2 separate regions of the Homo sapiens genome follow, and region 2 is reported to be linked to region 1. Evidence: microRNA targets listed by miRTarBase, many of them from high-throughput screens and not tested one by one. Region 1 holds a microRNA gene; the other region holds the end of a gene's coding sequence.

Region 1 (7,264 bases):
GGGCCACCACAGCTGGCCCTCCTCCCTAAAGACACAATTTCCTACCACCCAGGCTGGGGGCACTTAGGATAGGAGAGGGCCCCTCTTCACCTCCCCACCCTGCAGAACAGGTCCTGGATCCTCCCTTGTGTGGCTTCCAGAAGGTCTGTGAGATGGGCAAAAGGTTCTGCCCATGATCTGTCCAATGGTGTCCAGTGTCAGGCAGGAACGCTGTCCCACTGCAGCGAAGGCCTTTCTTGCTGGAGCGGGAGGGTCACTGAGAAGCACTTTTTGCTTTGTTTTTCTGTTTGTCAAAAGCAGCGGCTCCCAGATGCCCGGGTTTAGGGCGTCCCCCATGTCGGGCACCTTGCTTGGCCTGTCTGGGTGCGTGGAGCGGCAGGAGGGGCAGCTCCCTGGAGGGCTGTATGAGTGGGTTTTCCAGACTCCCCGCCTCCCCCACCACTCCATTTGCTTATTCATTCCAGGCCATTATCCCAGCCTCTGCCCAGCCTCAGGCGGGTCGAAATGCGATCCGGCACCATTGATCGCCTGCAGCCCCAGGCTGCCGATGGAGCCCGGCTGGTGCGGCCACAGCTGGGTGGGGAGGAGGACAGGACCCCCCACATACACACTGGAGGAGGGTGGGAGTGGCCTCCTCAGCAAGTCCCAGGCTTGGGGGCTCCATGGGACCAAGAGAGCCCAGTGCTGCTGATGTCCCAAAGCAGGCCCGCCCACCCTCGGAGAGGCTTCCAGAGTCGTGCCTCTGCTCAGAGGCCAAACCTTCCCCACCAAGCCTCTCCTTTCGGGCAGAGGTGTCCTCCCCAGCGCCCAAGCCCAGGCTGCCGGTCCGGTCTGGGTGCCACCGAGGTCCTGGACTTGGCCCTGGGGATGGCCTGGATCTGTTTGCATCTTAAGCCATCATCCCATCTCACTCCACCCTAAAGGGCAGGCAGGATGGGAGGGGTGGTGGCGGTGGCGGCGGCAGCGGTGTCATTTTGGGGGCCCTGCCAAGTCAGCTGCTCCCCCAGCCGGGGCATGTTCGGAAAATGAGCCTGCTCATGGTGGGCCCATACTGCCCAGGAGGCTTGAGGGCAAAGAGTCCCTTCCAGGCTGCAGGGGAGGCATGGGGATGCAGGGTTGGGGGCAGGCAGCCTGCACCCTTGCTAAAGGCTTGAGATGCCTTCAGGACACTTCAACACCCCTTGGGAAAGGACCTGGCCTCATCAGGGGAAGTGGGAACACGGAAGTGTGCTGCCCTTGGGTAAGTGACTGGCGGTCTGGGGAAATGCCACTCCGAGAATCAGATCGCAGCCAGCCCTCAAAGGGTCTGGGTGTGTGCAGGGCTGCTGGGTGTGTGCAGTGGGTTCTGTGGTCAGGAGAGTGCCGTCTGGATGGGAGATATTTGGTTGGTTTTAGCTTGGCCCATTCCTGCCACTGACTGATGGCCCCAGAGGCTGCCTGTTCCCGTTCCTGGGTAGAAGGTCCCAGCGCCATTGTTTGTCCACTGCTTTTAGGGAAGAGGCCTTGGCAAGTGGAATGCTCTTCCTCCCTTGGACTTGATAGGGAGGAGGAATGTTTTGTGTAGCAACTTCCCTCTCTCCCTTTGGGGTGGGCAGCCTGTGAGCTTTAGGCTCTAGGGAATGGCTTGGGAGCATCTCTCTGGATTAAATGGAGCAGTGACGTGGGCTTAGTAAATAGCAAAACCCAGCCCACATTAGCCATCTCTTCCCCAGCGCCCAGGGGCAGGGCTCTCTGGCCTGGCTTGTGCTGGTTCCCAGAGTCCCTGCTGTCAGGTGCTGGGAGTGGAGGTGCCCTCGGGTTCCCTTGGGAGTGGTGACCACAGCTCAGGGCCTGGGTTGGATCCTGGTGGCTGCCCTAGGGATGGTGTCTGCTCCATGCCTGCCCACAGGAACTGCAGGTTACAGATATGAGGGGAAGGGAGGAGAGGAGGGGGCTGAGGAGGGACCGGGACCAGCAGGAAGGGGGACTGTGGGGTTGGGCCTCCACACCAGGGCGACCCTGCAGGAAGGACCTTGTCGCAGTTGCGGGGATGGGCGCCTCTGTCCTGGCCCTGCCTGGACCATCCTAACTGTCTCTGTCTCTTCCTCAGCACAGACCGAGGCCTCCCCAGCTCCTGGGGGGAGCTGCTTGCCTCCCCCCGTTTTTGGCAATGGTAGAACTCACACTGGTGAGGTAACAGGATCCGGTGGTTCTAGACTTGCCAACTATGGGGCGAGGACTCAGCCGGCACCCTGTGCACAGCCAGCGAGGGAAGGGCCGGCCATGCTGGACCTGCTGTTCTCCGCGAGGAAGGAGGGGACTCAGGTCCCGGACTGCTGGGTAGTGGCAGAGGGCAGGTGCAGCTGGAAGTGACACTCTGTGTTTCCCTGCATCCCCCTGAGGTCACAGGTCCTCAAGTCAGCTGGGAAGCCGTTCTCTGGCCCTCAGGGGTGCTGCCAAGAGGAGCTGGGGTCCAGCTCTGCTCCAGGCTGTGGCCCTGGAGTCTGAATCGAGGAGTGAGGGAACTGGGGGATGTTTGGTTTCAGGGCTTTGGCCTGGCTCCTCTGGGTGGTGAACCTTCTCACCCTCTCCCCTGAAAGGCCCTGTTCAGGGTGGGCTCTAGGGCCCCGAGGGAGGGTCTCCTAACCTTCCACAGGTCACTAAGAGTGGTTCCTTCCTGGGCTGCTGGCTGGGAGGATGAGGGCAGGGAGGGCACGCCGTGCATCACGGACATCCAGTGATCCTGCTGAGGCCATGGAGGGCCAGATGGGATAAGCCTCCAGAGATGTGCAGGAGGAGAGTGTACAAGTCACTTGTGTAAATGCGGGACTGGCCCCCTGGGGTGCAGGTGGCCCATGGGCTGGACCTCTATGCCTCCAGCATTCCACTTCATGGATTTGTTCCTCCTGACGCCTCAGAACCTGAGACAAAGCCTCCACTCACCTTCCCAGAGCTTGTGTTTGCAGTGGGAGCTCCCCTGAGCCGGAGCCGGGCCACAGGGTCAGAGTGAGTGGCACTTCCCAGAGAGTTGGGCTTGGTGGGCAGACCTGCTGGGGAAGCCCGGCCCTGGAGTCTCCTGGCCTGCAGATGGCTCAGGAGCCAGAGTGGGAGCTGCGCGTGTGGTTGAGAGGGTGTGGGTGCAGGTGTAAGTGTGTGTGTGAGTGTGGCCTAGCCCGCAGTGAACGGTGCAAATGCAAATGTGAAGGCCTATCCCCTGCTCCCCAGCCCTCGGCCTGCCAGCCTTCCTTCTCTGGTGCTCCCCATCCCCCAAACCCCTTCTATCAGCCCCCATCAGCCCTCCTTTCTCCTCACCTGCCCTCGGAGGGTCATGTGTGGTTCCATGACCCACCAACCCCTGTGGCTGGGCAGGGCGGGGCAGACATCTATCTGGTGGCTCCAGGCTCAACCGGCTCCGTGCAGCTCACTGCGCTCTTTTGGGGAGACACAGGCCGAGTAGGGAAGGTCTGAGCCGGCAGCTCTTGAGACAGAAAGAGAAGGGAACTGTTCTCCCGCAGGCTGCACTATGCATGTTACATGCCGTGAGCACAAGCAGACGCTGCGTAAACAGGCTGGCTCTGCAGGGCATGAAGAAGGCTGCTCTGAGCTAGGGCCACACGGCACCTGCTGGGACACAGGGAGGGGTGGGGAGTCCTGGAAGATGAGTGACCCTCAGGGAGAGGAGGAGACTCCTGTTGGAGAGCACACAGATTTCCTGGGGTCTATGCCGGGCTGGAAGGCTGGCCATCTTAAGGCTGCATTTGTTCCCGAACCTAAGGACCATGGGAGCCACGCAGCCAGAGGGGGTGTGATCAGATGTGTGTTCTGGTTGGATGGCTCTTGTGGCTGTGTGCAGAATGAAAGGAGGAGTTGGACTTGGCCATTAAGTCCACGATGGCAGAGGAAGCAGGTGCCATGGGAGAAGGACCTTGGATACATGCCCAGGAAGGTGAGTAGGGGTCTGCCAGAGACCAGGGCCTGAAACGGCTCTGCTCTCTGTTCTTTTTTTTTTTTTTTTTTGAGACTTGAGTCTTGCTCTGTCGCCCAGGCTGGAGTGCAGTGGCGCCATCTCGGCTCACTGCAAACCCCGCCTCCCGGGTTCACGCCATTGTCCTGCTTCAGCCTCCTGAGTAGCTGGGACTACAGGCGCCCACCACCACGCCTGGCTAATTTTTTGTATTTTTAGTAGAGACGGGGGTTTCACCGTGTTAGCCAGGATGGTCTCGATCTCCTGACCTCGTGATCTGCCCGCCTTGGTCTCCCAAAGTGCTGGGATTACAGGCATGAGCCACTGCGCCCGGCCTGCTCTCTGTTCTTAAGCTTGTAAATAACAAAACCAGGAGATGTGGGCTGAACGGTTTAGTGTAGTGATCAACAGCAGCATAATCGCGGTGCCCAAGTACTGCTAAGTGCTAAGCATGGAGGTAAGGTCAGTGATTAGAATGCGTTTTATAGTCCAAGCTGGCGTGGAGGAGCCTTGCATCATCTTTGTCCCCCGACCCACATAGCTTCATTTGGCTGGTACAGCTGCTGGTGCTCCATGCTGGCAGGAATAGAATTATTATGGGGCCTCAGCAGGGTGGGCGCTGAAGAAGAAATTGGGGGCTTTGGGCAGATTGAGTCACAGTAAAGCTATTGATCTTTGAGCACAGACTGTGCTACATTTTCATGATTTCAGTGAATCCTCACAACCACGGGCAGCGCACAGATGAGCAAACAGGATCAGGACAATGAAGTGTTTATAGCCAAGGTGAGTGGTGGAGCAGGGAACCCGGGCCCTGGCAACTGCTCCCAGAGGCTGCAGGCCCCGTGCCACACAGCCAGGGGAGGGGGCTGCACTGTGGCCAGTGGACCCTGACCTTCTCCCTGGTGCCCCTTTAGCCCCTGCAGAGACTTCTGCCTTTCCCTAGGATACATGGTTGCTGGGGGTGGCAGAGCTAGAACCAGGGTGGTGGGAAGGCAGGACTGATCAGTGGGATGGTCCCTACGGAATGGAATGTCCCAGCTGCCGTCACCACTGCCACCTCCCCATCTCTGTCCTGCCCTGCTCCACTGACCGTCCTCTGAGCTAATCTGACCACAGTATCCCCACCCTCTCCCTTGGGATAAGCCCAAGCGCCTTACCTGGTTTATGGGGCCTGGTATGACCCAGCCTTGCCATGCAAACTACCCTCCTGCTCCCCCCACCTGTCTTCCTGCTCGCCAGGAAGAAATTGTTTCGCCTTCCTCATGTGGCCTGCCCTCCCCGCCAGCTCTTCCTCCCTTCGAAGCTGGTAAGGCAGCATGTCTCAAATGCCCTGCACACACCTTCCCAGCCTGCCAGTGCTAAAACCACAGGGCTAGGGGTGAGGGTTGAGGTTAGTAGGTCAGCTTCACCCATCAACTGTGGAGGCTTTTTGGGTCCAGGCTGTATCTCACTCACACTTTCATGCCCAGGGCTGGCCTTGGCCTGGTATGGGGCCTGGCATGTGGCAGGGAGGCTGTGGAATTCCAGACCTGGGTGATGCATTCTGACTTCCACACTCTGCGTAACCTCTGACCTCAAGCATCTCCGAAAGTCTTGTCACCCCCCCAAGAGTCTCAGTTCCCGCAGTGGAAGGGACCCTCGTGCATGGGTAGCCCATGGGCCCCCTGAGGTCATAGGAAGGCCTGCCTGGCTCTGACCTCCAAAAGGGAGGGGCTGCCCTGGTGTCAGGGCCTAGGGCGTACAGATGGCTCCACAAGGCAGCTCCTCCAGGTCAGGCAGCTGGAGCCCGGGCACCTTTTGGAGCACAGAGTAAGTGTGCACAAAGTACCATCAAAACCACATGTGAGAGGTTTCCACAAAGACCAGCTTTCCAGCAGAAAGAAGATGGCTGCATTAAGTCCACCAATATTCATTTTTTTTTTTTAAGAGGCATCCAACATTCCTGCAGGGGAAGAGGCTGTTAGGGATGAACTCAGCTGTTCTTTTTTTTTCTTTTTGAGACAGAGTGTTGCTCTGTTTCCCAGGCTGGAGTGTGCTGGCACGATCTTGGTTCACTGCAACCTCTACCTCCTGGGTTCAAGCAATTCTCCTGCCTCAGCCTCCCAAGTAGCTGGGATTACAGGTGCCTGTCACCAAGCCTGGCTAATTTTTGTATTTTTAGTAGAGATGGGGTTTCACCATGTTGGCCAGGCTGGTCTCGAACTCCTGGCCTCAAGTGATCTGCCCACCTCGGCCTCCCAAAGTGCTGGCGTTACAGGTGTGAGCCACCGCGCTCGGCCCCCATCAAGATTCTTGTTAAACACTAACAGCAAAGGGCTGGGCTTGCTGCAGGAGGCATGGCACCCAATGCCAATGGGTCTGCCCTCCTGGTACACACAGCTCAACGCGGGAGCTGGGCTGGGCACGGTTACAAGCCCCACTGGGCAGTGTGGATGGGGCAGGTGCATGTAGTACAGACAGGAAGAGGTGCTGGGGCTGAAGAAAGGCATGGCCTCCAGGGCTGGGGTGGTGCATGGGCTCTGAGTGGAGGGAGCCACCTACATTGAGCCTGAGTAGAGAGAGAAGGGGGAAAGAGCAGGTCCCAGGGGGAGGAATACAGGGGCAAAGTGTGGTGCTTGGAAGGACAGGCTGCAGCCAACTTACAGCAGCAGATTCCTGGAGGAGAATCATGGGAGATGAAGGTTGTGAAGCCCTTGACGTTATCCCTCAGTCTGGGCTCAGTTTGGAGGGCACCCGTGCTGTGGTGTGCGCTGGACCAGACCAGAGATGGTCTGGCTATCCAGGTCCCTTCTGTGGCTTACTCGCTATATTGCTGTGCATTGGAAGACGTTTCAAAACATAAAATCCAGGATTTTTGGTTTTCGTTGGGGGCCACTCAGGAAATTCCAGTTCACTCCATTTCTGGAAACAACTCACCCATCTCCAGGAAAAATGGAAACTGGAGATTTTAGCTATGAAAGATTTGGGTGGTAATGTGAGGTTATTTTCAAGTAGTTGAAAGAATTCTAGTTCTCTATGACTTAAGAGAGCAGAAGCAGGGGCAGTAGCCGACCCCAGACAGGCATGTTCTATACATCACACAGAGCTTCCTGACTGCACCAATGAGGGCCTCGGGTCTGGACCCTCCATCTCTGGAGATGGCCAAGCAAAGGTGCTGGAGTGGGATGCCAACCTCAGGTGGGGACCAGATCAGATGCCCTGTCAGCATGACAATCCTAAGTTTATGTCGAGGCTGGTTCCTCACCCAAGTTGGGGCCTCTCACAACTCCCTAAATTCCCCAGCCATAATCTAGGCATTTAAAAATGTATATAATTGGGAGG
Region 2 (7,000 bases), not on the chromosome of region 1:
GGAAGCTGCCTGCGGGAACCTCATTCCTATTCATTGCCTCCTCTTGGAAGGCTAATCTGCTATTTCGGTTCCTTTAGCCTTAGATGAGCTTTTAGGAAGTACTGTCATGCCCTAGCTTAGAAGGAAAAAAGGTAACTGGAAAGGAAAACCTTTGGGAATCTTACACTGGGAGGAGAGGGGAATGTAACTCAATCCATATAATAACACAGTTCATTGTAAATAGACATGTTGACTGTGGTAACATGCTGTACTTTGTGCCTGATTGTTAAAATGCTAAGAACAGCTGGAAAATTTACATGAGGAAGAGAAAATACTTGTTTCTGGGGATAAAGAAAGGATCATGTTGTCTTTTCTTTCCTTACAGTGTCACTGAATTGCCCCTGACTTAGCCTCTCCATCAGCCAACAGGTTAGAGAGTTCTTTCCTCTGTGTGGACTGGGGTCTTTCCTCTTGGAATCTGATTTTAATGAAACAATTAGGTTGCTCATTTTGAAATAACCATGGCTTTTAGCCAAATTTTATGCTACTCTGAATAAACAATTTTGCTTAAAAGATTTTAGCCACTTCCAGAAGCCAGTGCAGTTGAGTAATTTAGTGGGCACGTATATCTCACTTAACGTGGCACGCTGGGGAGAGGTGTGTGGGGCTGGGACCTCAAGCTGCACCACCTCAGACACACTTAACCCTGGGCCTGGGTTTTCTCAAGTAGAATCACCACTTTCCTTCCTGGGACGCGACGATGTTGAAGTGAGACAAGGTTACGTCCAAAGGCTGGCATAGTTGCTGGCAACGCTGATCACTACTGCCATTTCTTCCCGGCGTGTGCAAGGGGTATTTCACGGGCCATCTTTGGAGTCATCGGGAGTGCATGTGCCAGCGGTTCCCAAATGTGAGCATGCCTCAGGATCACCTAATGCACGCTCTAACCCAACGTTCAAACCCAGAAGACCGGTGAGGAAAATACTTTGGATCAGTGATGACGGCTGCACCACTGTGAGTATACTAAAAGCCACTGAATCATGTACTTTAAAGGGGTGCAGTTTATATGAATTCTATCTCAATTTTTAAAAATGGGCTCCAACCTGAGGCGCTGATTCAGTAGCCTAGTTGGGGCCCATGGGTTAGCCTTTTGTGGGGGGGTGGATGGGCACGGACAGGGTCTTGCTGTCACCCAGATTGGAGTACAGTGGCGCAACCACGGCTTACTACAGCCTGGATCTCCTGGGCTTAAGCGATTCCTTCCACCACCATGCCCAGCTAATTAAAAAAAAAAAATTTTTTTTTTTTCTAAAGACAGGGTCTTGCTGTGTTGCCCAGGTTGGTCTCTAACTCTGGGCTCAGCAATCTTCCCACCTCAGCCTCCCAAAGTGCTGCAATTACAGGCGTGAGCTACCTCGCCCAGCCGGGTTTGATTTTTTTTTGTTTTTTTGAGATAGGGTCTTGCTTTGTCACCCAGGCTGGAGTACAGTGGCATGATCACTGCTCACTCCCTGGAGCCTCCACCTCCTGGGATCAAACCATCCTCCCACCTCAGCCTCCCAAGTAGCTGGGACTACAGGTGCATGCCATCATGCCTGGCTACATTTTGTATTCTTTGTACAGCCAGGGTTTTTGCTATGTTGCATGTTGGGGACCAGCCTCAACACCACCCGTAGGGTACCCGAAGTCTGGTGGCGACAAAGGATTGAGAAGAGACAGGTTAAGAGTGAAGGTGGGAGCCAGGGGGCCAGTTGCAAAATGTGGAGGCTGCAAAAGGCTTAGAGCTCTGGTCTCCACACTATTGAGTCCAATCACTTAGATTTAAGCAGATGTTCGGGGCGAAACAGTGGAAGGGCGGCGGCGCGTCACAGGCATCATCTACGGCAACAGCGGTTTCAACGAACCTCCTCTGTGCTGCTCAAACAGCGTATCTTTATCGGAGAGTAGCTGGTGGGAGCGGGCTTAACTCGGAGCCTGCACGTCTGTCCGCATTCCAGTGTTTCAAAGGAGTGTCTCTCTCCTTGAACACAGTGTTTACAGATACGAGAGCAGGTCTCACTCTGAGCATGGGAACATGATGGCAATTAGGAGGCTCTCCTCCTCAGAGACCTCTTGTGGCTTTCCACAACTTAGTGTCCTGTATTTTTATGGCCAGTTTATACAGGCACCCCACAAGCCCTTTTCCCAACAGTTGCACAGGCTGGTCTCAAACTCCTGGGCTCAAGCGATCCACCCACCTCGGCCTCCCAAAGTGTTAGGATTACAGGCGTGGGCCACTGGGCCCGGCCGGGCTTGCATTTCCATCAACTTCTTATGTGTCAGTCCCAGGACCACTCTGAGAACCCAGGTTCTAGCCCAGCCATGCAGCTGAGTATCTAAACAGGGCTGCTGCGGCTCAGGTGCAATCTTCCTCTTCAGATGACATTCTCTTAGTGTCATTTAGTTTCTATTAGATGTTAACGGTTCAGGAAAATACTTTGATGGATAACTTAAATCTTTGCAATATTATTTTTTTAAACCAGAAAATACCCCTTATAAACCAAATAAATGCTGAGTAACATAGGAAAGGTTAAAAAATAAGTCTCAAAGGTTTGCTTTGAGGACTAACCAAGGTAATACATATAAAGCACCTAGCCAATGCTTTGCACACTAGCCCATTAAGGATCAATTGTTCCCATTCCAATCTGTTAAGATTTTAATCCAACAGAAACCCTTGGTCTGAATGGTTTAAAAGTAGTCTCGGCCCCCAACAAGGAGTCTGATAATAAACTGGTCTCTCACTCACCTCCAAGCTGACCTTCCTGTTGTTCAAGGAAGTTTCCGGTTGCAGCTTCTGCGTTGATTCTTCTTCCTCAGGTCTGTCTGACTTGTATTAATGCCAAGTGCATCACAGAGGAACATAAGACTCACACATTGGGATTTTGTTTACTTTTCATTTATTCACATTTCATGGATTGTTACACTTCCTCGATGGGAGCATTCAAAAACTAATACAAGCTGAGATTATATTGTCTGACAATTCAAGTATTTTAGTTTTAGAAAACAATTTCCTATTTAAAGTAAAAAGCAAACAATTTATCCATCTGATTGCTAAGAAGTTTTACATCTCCATTACAATTGTGTCTGCATCAAACGGAGAGTCCTTCGTCCTCAGTATGATTGTTACTGGCTGAGAACATACGGTGACCTGTGTTCTGAGTGCCTGCTTGGAAAAGACCTCCCTGTCATCTGCCATACTACGGGACAAATCAGTATCTACTCAAATTCCCACTTCCAGAATGAGAGGACTCATCAGGGGTTTAGGAGTTTGCAAAGCCTTCAAAATGTATCGTGCTTGAATTTTGACTCTTCTGAAATAGAATAACTGACAAATGCTCAAAAAACAAACTTGTTTAACTTTTACTGAAAAGGCTCTCAGTGAAAACTTGTTTTGAACTCTACTAGTAAGGTAGAATATTAGTTTTTCTTCCCCTCCACACCAGAAAAGGCAGTTTTCTCTTTTTTTTTTTTTTGGCATGCAGCATATATAAAATGTGATCTAGAATTGAAATTGTAAAACAGAATAATCCTCTTAAAGAAAATCAGCCTATGAACAGTCAGACTTGTCCTTCCATGGAAAACATAATCTAAACTTCTTTAAAAACTGGCCATATTTTTTCAGTCTGTAATTCGAATAATGAAGATGGCATAACAAATTTTTTTGCTTACTAGGAATGCGCAAAAGGATGAGATGGATACACAGGTTTTAAAAAAAAAAAAAAAAAGGCCACTGGGATATTTAGTATTTGTCCAGATGCAAAACAATTTCAGAATAACAAAATACACACCTTGCTTTAGGCCACGTATATGATACACTTCATAGATTCTCAAACAAAAGATGAAAATTTCAGTCCACATTAAACATTTTAAAGCATAACTTCTAATATTTTGTTAAAAATAAGTCAAACTAAACGCATAAATCAGAATTACCTGTTAACATAGTGGGGAAAGTAGGGAAGCCCTCCAGGGGCCCCGTGCCCCAAGTAAAAGACAAGGAGTTAAATTTTACAATGAAATCCACGTATACTCAGGCTCTTTACACTAATAATCAAAGTGGAGACCAACCAGTTCCTAAAGCATAAAAGAGTGATTTTAAGAAAATATCACATTTTGAGTTACGGTATATTCATCACATTTTTCCCTGTAATTTTCACTTTAACAGTGATAGTCTTAGCAGCAAAAATTTGCTGGGAATGTTAGGAAAAAAGGAAGCCACACATACCTACTAATTTAAAAATATATAAACTATTTTTTACAGAAGGGCAGGTTTAAAAGAAAATCCAATCATGATCTTTTCATGCCATTTTTTGTCAACTTTCCATACACACGCAGACGCTAACAAAGTACTGTGTCATATACACTGAAGTGTCCTGAAGATGCCTGTGAGCTGCTGATTCCAGCTGGTACCAGGGAAGCATGTGTGGCTAAGTTGCAACAAACTTAAATTTGTTCCCCTTAGTTCTTCATCTTTTTAAAAGCTGAATAAACTTAATGTCAATCGGGTGGGGCCGGTATTAACAGCATCAACCGCTTGCTTACTATGAATCATCCGCAACAGAAACCCACGTGCATTCTCCATTCTTAAAAAGTCAGTGTAAAACTAACGGCCACTTCCTCCCTAGGTGCCTACTATCGCTATGTCTGACAGCATCTGTAACAGGACAAGCTCACCTCTCTCTACACGGATTCATCCAAAGCCACACACTAGGCCAAATTCTCCCAGTGGAATCAAAACACTGGAAGTAGAGCAAGAACCTCATGCCAACATTGGCCCAATCACACCTCAGTGACTTAGGAGTTCATCATATTTGATCATAAAATTGCTCCCGGCGCCAAACCTTACACCTAAAGACTGTAGTTTTAAAAAGCCACTGTACCGTCCACAATTATTCTGACCACTCTTTTCTAAATGGAGAATGTGCTACGCACTGAAGATCAGAACACACACGCGGGAGCCCTTGGGCACTGACCCTGAGCCTGTACACAAGATCAGCTGGTACTAGTCTCAAATGATTCATGAGGACTCAGTGGAAATTTAAACATTCAATTCTGTGTATCATTCATGTGCCCAGAGTCTTCAAAGAATGCTCGTGTTAGTTACCTGACACCTCTGGAGAAGTGACAGGGATATTCGTGTGAATAACCATGGCTCCCTTCCAGACAGACATATGGAATCTTACTCTTAAAAAAGTAAAGATATTTCAGATATCAAATGTATTATAATATACTGCGGTCTAAAGTTAAAGGCAAAGTTTACACACGATTTTCTCTTCCATGACTTTATTACATGTTTCCTAGTGAATTCACACGGCTCGTGTGTCAAAGCTCCCAGGCACGTCACTTGGTCACAGTTTTCATGTGCGTGGGGTTGATCATGGTACAAATGCCTATGCGCATCTTTTTCTCGGATGGTCTCATTTGACTTTCATTTCGTAAGGGTTCACTCTCCATGGTGTAGATGATAAGCTACCACATTTGTGCTTTTAAACCCATTCCTGGCAATCCCCCTTTATCTTCATTTTGTCTTTAGGGGGATAAAGAAGTAACACTACCTCATGAATAGAAACTATGAAGCCAAAAAACTCCTTCACAAGCTGTTCATTTCTTTTTAGAATGAAAATGCAGGTCCTGAATTCTCGTGAAGCAGCCCACAGGGTTACAGGCCAATGATTCGAACGCTGAGGTGAACACTTAGTACTCGCATTTGAGCTTCAAAGTAAAAATAAAGCAGAGGACAAACGCCTGTCACAGCGTGGCAGCCCGGTTCATTTGGTAACAGAACAAGTCTCACACGTCGGCTGAGCCCACCGGAGAGAAGCACACAGGCCAGCTTCCTTCTGAACACAGCCAGGCACCTGTTCAAAAGCCTCTCTCGTGGTGGCGGTGGACCCCAAAACCCACGGGTTGGAAGAGCCTTTGGGAAAGCAAATTGATACCCTGATTGCAGTCCTTGAAGAAATCACTTAGGGTTAGTTTAATAAACGAACATTAAAAAATCTTCCAAAAATTGCATTCAAATGTATTTTACACTTTAGGCAGTTCTTAAGAAGGGAGAGTGCAGTTTCTTGACACTTAACATTTAAAGGTTTTATTGGCCACATTAATCTTCCTCACAAAAGTTTTAAGTTATCTATAAGTTCTTAGAATGTCAAAGAAGAGAAGAAAAACTGACTAACTTTAAGGGGCGGTGGAAGCAGCAGCAACTTGGCAATAATTCTGCAGCCGACTTTGCGTGTTCAGGCATCCTTTTTCTCCAGTAAAATTTTGTGCAACTCGTCTGCATCCTCGCTGGTTTTTACCCGAATCAACATGGTGACTGGCATGGTGGCATTCTTCTCGTCAATTGGTGGATTTGGAACACAGACGATAAGAACGTTATTCTTCCCTGTTCGCGTACATGGCATATTGGGTGGAATCAGAACGTTCAGCAATATGTTGCCTGCATTCAAACAAACAAAACCCATCAAAATTATAGAAGCTATAGCTCCACCAAAGGAGTCTGTAATATGCTAAACATTAAATGCTGAAATAACTTAATACATCTAAGACAGGGAGCCAACAGGACAGCACAAAATCAGGACTGGTTCCCTGAGAACTGGGAGGCCTCGGGGAGCACTTGCCCTCACTGTGAGGAGTGGCCTTCCGTCCTCCCTCCAGCCCGGGTCTCTGCACCCACACAGCGTTTCTCTCAGAGCCAGCAGCCTCGCTCAGAACCGTCAGCCCTCTCAACACTGTCCGTCTTTGCACTGAAGGAAGAACACGGTGGCACAACCCAGTGTCTTCACTGCGCCACACGGACAAAGGACACCTCTGTCACAGGCCGGCACAGCTCCCTGGGCAAAAGTGACACGACCATGTTATTACTCCCTAGTCAAGCCCACGGGAAAGAAAAATGCCTCCCTGGAGTTTCTGCAACACAGCCCCCTGTTCTCTACCACTACTGCCCGCTCCACCGCAGGCCTGCCCCGTCTTCCTCCTCCTC

What was found. The annotated mature microRNA hsa-miR-182-5p reads UUUGGCAAUGGUAGAACUCACACU and lies in region 1 at 2,143-2,166, shown strand. An mRNA with a match to its seed (bases 2 to 7 or 8) in the 3' UTR can be bound and repressed. Matches are read on the target gene's strand: a 7mer-m8 pairs with bases 2 to 8, a 7mer-A1 pairs with bases 2 to 7 and ends in A, and an 8mer does both.
Region 2: miRTarBase lists NUP50 as a target of hsa-miR-182-5p. Seed matches in the 3' UTR shown: 7mer-m8 at 6,223-6,229 and 7mer-A1 at 3,489-3,495.

What each region holds. Positions count from the first base shown.
Region 1 is chr7:129,765,349-129,772,612 of GRCh38, reverse strand. It overlaps MIR182 (microRNA 182), which reads left to right and starts at 2,121; the gene lies at 2,121-2,230. LOC105375501 (a long non-coding RNA gene) reads left to right here and starts at 3,408. Exons shown (of 3, transcript XR_927963.4): 1 at 3,408-3,925; 2 at 4,655-4,726. RefSeq lists an enhancer at 1,107-1,970.
Region 2 is chr22:45,183,910-45,190,909 of GRCh38, reverse strand. It overlaps NUP50 (nucleoporin 50), which reads right to left. Exons shown (of 8, transcript NM_007172.4): 8 at 2,893-6,457. The coding sequence ends at 6,255. It overlaps LOC105373064 (a long non-coding RNA gene), which reads left to right. Exons shown (of 4, transcript NR_146602.1): 2 at 365-408; 3 at 710-993. Among named protein-coding and RNA genes, the nearest start is that of MIR1249, 14 kb to the left of the region's middle. RefSeq lists an enhancer at 1-41.